Linked DNA regions of Homo sapiens. The protein of the gene in region 1 purifies or fractionates together with the protein of each later gene. This does not show direct contact. Each region holds a gene or a part of one and is shown on either strand. Other genes may lie near its edges.

Region 1 (7,260 bases):
TTGGGAGAAGCTTTCACAGTTCTGAATCCACAGCCTGCTGCCAGTACACACCGATAACTCTTCCCCCTAACTCTGAAGTAGACAAATTCATCATTTTATAAACTACAGACTTCATGTAAAAAGAAAGTATCAACAACTCAAAATAATAAACAAATATGGCTGGGCGCGGTGGCTCACATCTGTAATTCCAGCACTTTGGGAGGCCAAGGTGGGTGTATCACGAGGTCAGGAGTTGGAGACCAGCCTGACCAACATGGAGAAATCCAGTCTCTGCTAAAAATACAAAAATTAGCCGGGCGTGGTGGCACGCACCTGTAATCCCAGTTACTCAGGAGGCTGAGGCAGGAGAATCGCTTGAACCTGGGAGGCAGAGGTTGCAGCGAGCCAAGATCACACCACTACACTCCAGCCTGGGCAACAGAGCAAGACTCCGTATCAAAAAAAAAAAGAAAAAAATGTAAAATGATTCTTAACTATTTCTTTACTATTTCTTTCACATGTATGAATCAAAAGTGAAAGCAGCATTTTCCAAAACAGCAATACTAAGTTATTACTTCTTTCATTTTATTTTTCTGCTCCACAGGAGGTTTCTATAAGTTATGACTTCTATGAATTCTTGATTTACCTTTACTTTTACTGAGGAGACCCTGTTAAGTCAACCATGCACGTTAATTGAGTTGTTTTTCTTTTTCTTGAGATGGAGTTTCACTCTTGTTGCCCAGGCTGGAATGCAATGGCATGATCTCGGCTCACAGCAACCTCTGCCTCCCCAGTTCAAGCGATTCTCTTGTCTCAGCCTCCCGAGTAGCTGGGATTACAGACATGCGCCACCACGCCCAGGTATTTTTGTATTTTTGGTAGAGACAGGGTTTCTCCATGTTGCCCAAGCTAGTCTCAAACTCCCGAACTCAGGTGATCCGCCTGCCTCAGCCTCCCAAGGTGCTGGGATTTCAGGTGTGAGCAACCGCGCCCAGCCCAATTGAGTTGTTTTTCTAAGCAGTGGTAATTCACATTCTCATCCCTTCTCTTATGACCAAGGGCATACAAAAAAATACCAGGATAAGAGAGATTGCCAGGCCTGGCGCGGTGGCTCACGCCTGTAATCCCAGCACTTTGGGAGGCCAGGGCGGGTGGATCACCTGAGGTCAGGAGTTGGAGACCAGCCTGGCCAACTCGGTGAAACCTCATCTCCACTAAAAATACAAAAACTTAGCCAGGCGTGGTGGCGGGCGCCTGTAATCCCAGCTACTTGGGAGGCTGAGGCAGGAGAATTGCTTGAACTCAGGAGGGGGAGGTTGTTGCAGTGTGCCGAGATCATGCCACTGTCCTCCAGCCTGGGCAACAAGAGTGAAACTCCATTGCAAAAAACAACAACAAAAAACACAGACAAATTGCCTATGTAACCTATATTGGTCCTCAGAGGAATTTTTTTTTTTTTTTTTTGAGACAGAGGGGCGCTGTCTCCCGGGCTGGAGTGCAATGGCGTGATCTAGGCTCACTGCAACCTCCACCTCCTGGGTTCAAGCGATTCTCCTGCCTCAGCCACCCGAGTAGGTGGGATTACAGGCGCCCAACACTACGTCCAGCTAACTTTTTGTATTTTTAGTAGAGACGGGGTTTCACCTTGTTGGCCAGGCTGGTCTTGAACTCCTGACCTCATGATTCGCCTGCCTCGGCCCCCCAAAGTGCTGGGATTACAGGTGTAAGCCACCCTGCCCGGCCCCTTCAGAGGATTTTTAATAAACTGGCCCACATTTACTCTTCAGTTAAAAGCAAGAAATCGGCCAGGAGTGGTGGCTCATGTCTGTAATCCCAGCACTTTGGGAGGCCAAGGCGGGTGGATAACCTGAGGTCGGGAGTTCAAGAACAAACAGCCTAACTAACATGGAGAAACCCCATCTTTACTAAAAATACAAAATTAGCTGGGCGTGCTGGCACATGTCTGTAATCCCAGCTACTCAGGAGGCTGAGGCAGGAGAATCGCTTGAACCCGGGAGGCAGAGGTTGCAGTGGGCCGAGTTCCCGCCACCGCACTCTAGCCTGGGCAACCAGAGTGAAACTCCGTCTCAAAAAAAAAAAAAAAAAAAAAAAAAAAAAGCAAGAAATCTACCTTCCAAGGACATTAAAAAAAAATCAGCTAATTATTTAAAATAACCTTTAAATCCCTTTAGGGACTTAAAATCCTTTTAAATATTTAAAACCCAAACTTTAGAAAGGTTTGATTCCCTCTGGGCAGCCTCCTTTGCATTCCTCCTGGCTACAGTACCTCTATTCTCTCGCAGAATATTTTCAGTTTTTATTGGTTTCCACAATTTGATAGGAAGCAATGACCAGCAACTCTATGCACTCTCCTCCACTAAGCACATGCAGGAAAAATGACGGTTTATGTAAATTCATCTTACTTAGCTCCACACCCCATGTTGGAAGTTACTTTCGAATATTCCACACCTAAAGTTCAAGTAAACTTCCTTCGAGATTAAGCTCCTGGGCCGGACTCTGTGGCTTATGCATGTAACTCCAACACTTTAGAAGGCTGAGGTGGGAGGATTCCCTGAGCCCAGGAGTTTGAGATTAAAGTTAGCTATGAAGGCGCCACTGTACTCCAGCTTGGGTAACACAGCAATACCTTATCTCTAATAATAATAATAAAAATTTTAAAATCTAAAAAACTAAAAGACTTCTCCTGAGCTGATAAATGGAGAGTTGAAAACAACAAAAAAAAAACCTCATAATTGAGCTGGAGCCACTACATGCACACATGAAAAGGACTAACAGTCATAAAACAACACACAAAATCTGGAAGCTAATTTAGTGTAAAGGAAGAGCTTGTTGTTTCTTATTATAATACATCTCCCACTAAAGGTGTCCAATAAATTCTATCACCTTAGGAGATGAGTTTTAAACTAAGTGTAATGAGAAAATAGGTAATTTTTTAAAATCTCTTTTTTCTTTTTGGCTGCGGGGTGGCCAGAGAACGAAGAAATACCAAAAGTGAAATGCTACGCTGAATTGACCAGGCTAACTGGGAACTCACTGGAAAAGTGAAAACTGGGAAGAATTAGTGATGAGCTCAAGAAGGTGCTTAGCCACTTACCCAGAGATTTATTTAATGAGAATGGATCACAGGTTTCCACAGGTCGTTCCACTGCCAGTAAGAAGACAGTCGTGAACCATGGGTCCCTTTTTTCACTAGTCAACAGTCACCCTCACCTACACGCGGAGTACATATTTGGCACTCAGCAAATCTTGATTGAATGAAAACCTACCTCACTCATATTGGCACCCAACCCCGGAGTTATGGCCCCCCAAATTACCTCCAAAACGCCTGACGACCTAACCCAAGGAGCTGAAAAAGTGGAGAGGAAAGCTCTGGGGTGGAGGGGATTCTCTGCCAAACAAGCAGGGGCCAACGGGGCCTAGACCAACTCAACTTCCCACAGAAAACTCAGGGGCCCAGGGGATTGAACCGTGGCTAATCCCTTCTACTTCCACGAAGCAGCAGCCAAGGGGCCGCAGATCCACAGCCTCCCACCCGGGGGCGCTGAGAGATCTTGGGGTATCCCCCGCAAAAGTTAGTACCTGCGAAGCTGCGGCACAAAGAGTGGTTCCGGGCTCTCATTACGGAGGCCGGGACCTGGGACCGACCAGCCGCGCCTCCTGGCTGAGGGTTCCGCGCTCCGGAGCTGCAGTGACCGTACACGTCGCCGATAGACACCTAAGGCTTCAGAAGGGTCCTGGCTCGCAGGCCCCAGACGTTTTGCTCCTAAGACTCCGCGAGTTGTCGCACCCACGTCGACTGGCGCTCTTCAGTGCTTCCCTCACTGGTTAAGCGGTCACTCCCGCCTTAAGCCCAGCAGCCGGTCGCTTCCCGGCGCCGCCATCGTTAGTGTTTGTTTTCATCCGCTTCGGTAATGGCCGGGGGGGGGGGGTGAAAGAGGGCTACGGGGGAAATCCAGATGCCTAACCTTAGTCGCACTTTCGCTACAGTACGGACGCCCTATTTATTCTTTTAGTCCTCAAAATATCCATAAAAGTTGATTTTCATTCCACGTAAGCTTTCTTCTCCAATCTTTCTAAGCTACTCAAGATAAAACAAAGACGGAAAGGCGGTGTTTGAGAGAGAGAGAGAGAGACCGTTTGGGCCGCGTGTGGAATGTGCGGAGATGAACCGCAGGTAGCCGCGGCAGCGGCAGTGAGGGCGCGGCGCGGGGCGGGCGCTGACGCGGAAGGGGCGGTGCCGCTGTTGCGCGCCGTGGCGGCCTCTGTGCAGTCGCCGGTTCCGGAGGAGGGCCCAACCCGGCTGGGTGGGTGGGAAGTGTGGCTGGTAACCTGGCAGCCGCGGAGAGGTGGGTGACGGGCCTGGGCTAACTGAGTGGCCGGCGCAATCAGACTTTGACATCCGTTTTTAGGGTGCCCTTTAAAAGTGGCAGAGTCGCTTCCCAAACCTGGTTCGGCCAGCCTCTTTTTCGCTCCCGACTTCCAATGTGTCTGGTCTTCCGTACTTCCTGGCCCTCAGGTTCACGATTTGGAGTTCTTGGAGTGAGGGAAAAGCCTTTTGTTACAGCACACAGTGTACGTCCATAAGGCTGGGTTGTGGACTTTGGTTGTTTTTTTTTTTTTTTTTTTTTTTTTTTTTTTGCCCCTTCTTTTCTTGTTAGACTGGTTTGAACACCCCAGCATCTGTCCTGTATTTGTCAGGTGAAACCAGAAGTCTTTGGATAATGAAACCCGTGACCAATTCTTACCCAAGGTGGTTATGACATATGTCAGCTGCTTCTTGGCCTATATAGTTAGAAGCCGACCTCTTTTACCTTGTGAATAATTATGTCATCACCTCCATTATTCTTTTGGTGTTCTCAATTGAAATGCCAAGCATTAAATGAGCCACAAAGATTGAATTCCCATTATCCTTGAATCAGAGCAAGCCTGTCGTGCAGCCATGAGTTAGTGGAGAAAAATCCGGAGTTGTAAGTACAGTACGTTTTGCCTCAACAAAATGGAAATTTGTAGAAAAGGAGCTGCTCCAGCCTTTGAGTCACTTTAAAGTCTTTGGTAGGTTCCTAATGTTTTTTCTTTTAACATTTACAGAGAGAAGATTATAAATGGCAGAGCCATTTAACTGTGGTTAGCTGTTGGATTCTGATACTTTCTTAAAAATACGTTCTTGCACCAACATCTTCATTGGGAACAGTTCAGAAAAAGCAAAGAGGAGAGCCAACATTCACATTTACCATGGCTATACCAATAACAGTGCTTGACTGTGACCTCTTGCTATATGGCCGTGGTCACCGGACATTGGACCGTTTTAAGCTGGATGATGTGACTGATGAATACTTGATGTCCATGTATGGGTTTCCACGGCAGTTCATTTATTACTTGGTGGAGCTCTTGGGGGCGAATCTTTCTAGGCCTACTCAGCGATCCAGGGCTATTAGCCCAGAGACACAGGTCCTTGCAGCATTGGGTTTTTATACCTCAGGTTCCTTCCAGACTCGGATGGGAGATGCCATTGGAATCAGTCAGGCGTCTATGAGTCGTTGTGTTGCCAATGTCACTGAAGCACTTGTGGAAAGGGCCTCACAGTTCATTCGCTTTCCAGCTGATGAAGCCTCCATTCAGGCTCTGAAGGATGAATTCTATGGGTTGGCAGGGATGCCAGGGGTGATGGGGGTGGTTGACTGTATCCATGTGGCCATCAAGGCACCAAATGCTGAAGACCTCTCCTATGTGAACCGAAAAGGCCTGCATTCTTTAAACTGCCTGATGGTGTGTGACATTAGAGGGACACTAATGACCGTGGAGACAAACTGGCCCGGCAGCCTACAGGACTGTGCTGTGCTGCAGCAGTCTTCCCTCAGTAGTCAGTTTGAAGCGGGTATGCACAAAGATAGCTGGCTTCTGGGTAAGTTTGCAAGTGTGAATTTTCATTTTGTTTGGAGGCATAGAAAAGTTATGTAGGCTGGGGGCGGTGGCTCACACAACCCCAGCACTTTGGGAGGCTGAGGCGGTAGATCACCTGAGGTCAAGAGCTGGAGACCAGCCTGGCCAACATGGTGAAATCTTGTCTCTACTAAAAATACAAAAATTGGGCATGGTGGCAGGCGCCTGTAGTTCCAGCTACTCGGGAGGCTGAGGCAGGACAATCGCTTGAACCCAGAAGGCAGAGGTTGCAGTGAGCCGAGATGGCGCCATTGCACCCCCACCTGGGCAACAGAGCAAAAACTCCATCTCAAAAAAAAAAAAAGAAAGAAAGAAAAGGGACCGCACGTGTAGCTCATGCCTGTTATCCTAGCACTTTGGGAGGCCGAGGCAGGCAGATCACCTGAGGTTGGGAGTTTAAGACCAGCCTGACCAACATGGAGAAACCCCGTCTATACTAAAAATACAAAATTAGCCGGGCGTAGTAGCGCATGCCTGCAATCCCAGCTACTCGGGAGGCTGAGGCAGGAGAATCGCTTGAACCCGGGAGGCGGAGGTTGCGGTTAGCCAAGATCGCGCCAGTGCACTCTAGCCTGGGCAACAAGAGCAAAACTCCATCTCAAAAAAAAGAAAAAGAAAAATTATGTAGTGGAGTAGAATGAGATATGGCAGTCTGTAGAGCTGAGTCTCAGTCCTGTCAGTTTTTTATGAGACCTCAGGTGAGAATTTTCTTAGCCTTAATTTTTAAAAAATCAACATTTAATAGACATTATTAAAACTTTAAAGCATACTGTTAGAGCCAGCACAGTGGCACGTACTAGTACAACTGGTAATTGTAATTCCAACTATCTGGGAGGCTAAGGCAAGAGGATCACTTGAGCCTGGACCTTGAGACCAGCCTGAGCAAGATAGCAAGACCCTGTCTCCAAAACAATTAAACTTTTTTTTCTTATTTTATTTTTATTTTTTTTATTTTGTGTAGAGGCAGAGTCTCACTATGTTGACCAGACTAGTCTTGAGCTCCTGGCCTCAAGCTATCCTCCCATCTGAGCCTCCCAAAGCTCTGGGAATATGGCTGTAAGCCACCACACCAACGTAAAAAAAAATTATTATTATTATTATTATTGAGACAGAGTTTTGCTCTTTTTGCCCAGGCTGGAGTGCAATGGTGCGATCTTGGCTCACTGCAACCTCCGCCTCCCAGGTTCAAGCAATTCTGCCTCAGCCTCCTGAGTAGCTGGGATTATAGGCATGCGCCACTATGCCCAGCTAATTTTGTATTTTTAGTAGAGACGGGGTTTCACCATGTTGGTCAGGCTGCTCTCGAACTCCCAACCTCAG
Region 2 (3,881 bases), on another chromosome or scaffold:
GCGGATCACGAGGTCAGGAGATCGAGACCACGGTGAAACCCCGTCTCTACTAAAAATACAAAAAATTAGCCGGGCGCAGTGGCGGGCGCCTGTAGTCCCAGCTACTCGGGAGGCTGAGGCAGGAGAATGGCGTGAACCCGGAAGGCGGAGCTTGCAGTGAGCGGAGATCGCGCCACAGCACTCCCGCCTGGGCGACAGAACGAGACTCCGTCTCAAAAAAAAAAAAAAAAAAAAAAAAAAAATTCTGAACCCCTTAGATTCTAGATTTATATGTGAATAGCTATGCAGCCAGGGGAGGCCTGGATTCCCCTTTATGTCCCTCCAGGACAGGACTTTATGGCCTCCTCCCCACCCCATACAGCCAGCTTTATTCCTTCCAGAAAGTGACCTCCCTTGGCCTCTGTTCTTTCTACTGTGCAGTCCCCACAGAGACCACCTATCACACGCTGGAGGAGGGCGTGGTGGAGTACTGCACGGCTGAGGCGCCCCCACCTCTGCCACCAGAGACCCCTGTGGACATGATGGCCCAGCATGCAGACACGTCGGTCAAGCCGCAAGCGCTCAAGAGCCGCATTGCTCTCAACTCCGCCAAGCTGATACAGGAGCAGCGGGTCACCAACCTGCATGTGAAGGAGATCGCACAGCACCTGGAACAGCAGAACGACCTACTGCAGATGATCCGCCGCTCCCAGGAAGTGCAGGCCTGTGCCCAGGAGCGCCAGGCCCAGGCCATGGAGGGCACACAGGCTGCCCTGAGCGTCCTCATCCAGGTCCTCCGGCCTATGATCAAAGATTTCCGCCGCTACCTGCAGAGCAACACAGCTAACCCGGCCCCCGCCTCTGACCCTGGGCAGGTGGCCCAGAATGGGCAGCCAGACAGCATCATCCAGTGAGGGCAGGGGTCAGGCCAGCCTTCTGCCATGATGGGATGAAAACTCCATGGACTTGTAAGTGGGTCCTGTGATTGGCCTTGGCCTTAGACCGGCCACGTGCACAGCTCCCTCTTTAATAAACGCTTAGGGGTTGCACTGTTTTTGAGAAGAGGAATTTGTTGGGCTCCTGGGACCCAAACTCATACTCCCCCTACTTGAGCTGCCTTGCTAAGATCCAGAAGATTGGTTAGCAGGGGGTCACGTGTGCATGTGATGGGACATGTGTTGTCATGACCCCGGGCTTGTGACATGACCCAGCCTTGGTCTTGGACAACTGTAAGGAACAACACAACGGGCTGTCACTGGGGGCCGTCACCCAGCCTGGGTCTCTACTGAGCTGCCCAACCCCAGGTGCCATCCTTTCGAGTAGGGTAATGTCACTGATGCTGGCAGTTGAGCAATAATATCTTCCTCCTTTGGGAGGTAGTGTGACTGAGGAGGAAACCCCACCCTTTTCTCCTCACTGTGCCTCAGTTCTCAGGGGACTCCAATGACTGTTGTGCTCTCCCCCGACCCCACCCCAGGCACAGCGCAGGCCCTTGTTAGGTAGTGTGCTGGGACGCCTCCGTAATACATGCAGTGTGCAGCCAGTCTGGCTCAGGAATGCTGTGTATGGTGGGGACGGTTTGGCCACTCTCTGGTTTTCAACAGCATCTCTGGGCAGCCCTTTGGTGGTTTGTCCCTAGAGCTTTTGACTCAGGTCAAGCTTTGGATGCTGTAAATTTTTGAGAAAGCCAACTAGTGTGGAAGCTTGCTGCCCCACTGCAGTGGGTCTGAGTGACCTGTTGGCTTTGTGCGGAGGCTTGCATCCAGCCAGTTGTATTTATTCTGTGTGTGAACCCCTCCTAGGAAGGCCTCCAGGAAGGCTGCCCTGTGGCCACACCCATCCTCCTTTCCTCTCTGCTGACTCCACATTTCCAAAATTCAGTGCAAAAAAAGCCCTGCTGAGCATCACATGCTGGACTCTTCCCCTGCCACACCGCTCAGTGCCTTCTGTTCTCTTGAGACTCCCTCTGAGTAGCTGAGTGAATCCAAAGCCATAATTGACCCTGAACGTAGGAGGAGGAAAAGGCGAAGCTGACCTAAGAAGTGGGACCCTGGCCGGGCGAGGTGGCTCAAGTCTGTAATCCCAGCGCTTTGGGAGGCCGAGGCGGGTGGATCACGAGGTCAAGAGATCAAGACCATCCTGGCCAACATGATGAAACCCCGTCTCTACTAAAAACACAAAAATTAGCTGGGCGTGGTGGCACACGCCTGTAGTCCCAGCTACCCGGGAGGCTGAGGCAGGAGAATCGCTTGAACCCAGGAGGCGGAGATTGCAGTGAGCCGAGATTGCACCGCTGCACTCCAGCCTGGCGACAGAGCGAGACTCTGTCTCAAAAAAAAAACAAAGAAAAAACCAAAAAAACAAATGGGACCCTTTGGATTCTATGCTCAGGGAAGAGCAGGCAGAGCCTTGGAGTGCTGAAGGAGGTGCTGTTCCCTGTTCCATCTTTACACTTTCTCTTCTGAGATGTCTGTAAGGATTTTACCCAGATGCCATTTGTCTGTTTCATTTTCAGACTCACCATCAATTACCAAGGCCCTTGCATCTCCCCAGATCGTTTCCCAAGTTTGGCGATTTGCTGTCGGTGCCTCAGCCACATATGACCAATGGTTACAACTCAGGGCTCCAGACCTCAGCTAAAAAGAGAAGACGCTGCCCTCCTGGGCACGAACGTTTAGAATGCTCAACTCCTCTATTGTGACCACAGGAAGGTGGCCCTGAAGATGCACCGAAGACAGCTGGGAGGTGACTGCTGTACTGTCAGCCTCTCTGTGGAGGCATTCGTGCAGTGCCAGCTAAAAGGGAGGTGAAGGGGGATATCGGACCCAGCGAGGGAGTTGCTGGTAGAAGGAAAGCTCTTCTCAGTGTGGCTGGATTAAGAGCAGCCTAGCAGCTTGGGCACCTCCACTCTGTGCGGTCTGATGGCCCCAGCAAGGTCGCTGCAGGGACTTCCTGAGGACTTGGTTTGGTTTTTTTCTGGGGTTGGAAATCTGAGCCAATATTGTGTCTGTTCCATTTGGGTATGAAGAGGAAGTCTGGATCACTTAAACTGACTAGTTATTTCCGGGTCATAATTTTAAATTAAAGACATATCACTTTTTTATACACACATCTCTGTGTCTTTATTGCTTATATATAGAAGAGAACCAGGGACTGGCAGACGATGGCCCACAAACTCAAATCAGGCTCACCACCTATTTTTATAAATAAAATTGTATTGGAACACAGCCACACCCATTCATTTATGAACCTGTGGCTTTTTTTTTTTTTTTTTTTGTACCACCAAAGCAAGAGTTGAGTAGTTACAGAGACATCTGGCCCACAAAGCCAAAAGTGTTTACTCTCTGACCCATTTACAGTAGAAGTCAGTCTATTCCTGGTTTAAGGCAGTGTTTGGGACTCTTAAGAATTACCTGAGGCAGGCCAGGCACTGTGGCTCATGCCTGTAATCCCAGCACTTTGGGAGGCCGAGGTGGGCAGATCACGAGGTCAGGAGTTCGAGACCAGCCTGACCAACATGGTGAAACCCCGTCTCTACTAAAAATACACAAATTAGCCGGGCGTGGTGGCATGCACCTGTAATCCCAGCTACTCAGGAGGCTGAGGCAGGAGAATCACTTGAACCCGGGAGACAGTGGTTGCAGTGAGCCAAGATCATGCCATTGCACTCCAGCCCAGGTGACAGAGCAAGACTCCGTCTCAAAAAAAAAAAAACAAAAGAAAAAAAAAAAGAATTACCTGAGGCATTTCTTAAATATACCCAATCGCAGGCCTCACTCAAAACCTGGAGGGAGGACTCTATGCATTGTAAACAAGCCCTCAGTACAAGCCCTCAGTAATCCTGATACTTTCTGAAGGTTAAGAATTTTTTTTTTTTTAAAGACTGGATCTGGCCAGGTGTG

Evidence for each region.
Region 2: the proteins of HARBI1 (region 1) and NAIF1 purify together in Homo sapiens (affinity purification with mass spectrometry; 2 studies listed by BioGRID and IntAct, with this or other methods). This does not show direct contact.

What each region holds. Positions count from the first base shown.
Region 1 is NC_000011.10:46,614,210-46,621,469, reverse strand, and holds the start of HARBI1 (putative nuclease HARBI1), read left to right. Parts: upstream 1-4,242; 5' UTR 4,243-4,346; exon of another isoform or gene 4,347-4,976; intron 4,977-5,088; 5' UTR 5,089-5,232; coding exon 5,233-5,902; intron 5,903-7,260. UniProt on the Homo sapiens protein: Transposase-derived protein that may have nuclease activity. Does not have transposase activity.
Region 2 is NC_000009.12:128,060,440-128,064,320, reverse strand, and holds the end of NAIF1 (nuclear apoptosis-inducing factor 1), read left to right. Parts: intron 1-420; coding exon 421-893; 3' UTR 894-3,088; downstream 3,089-3,881. UniProt on the Homo sapiens protein: Induces apoptosis.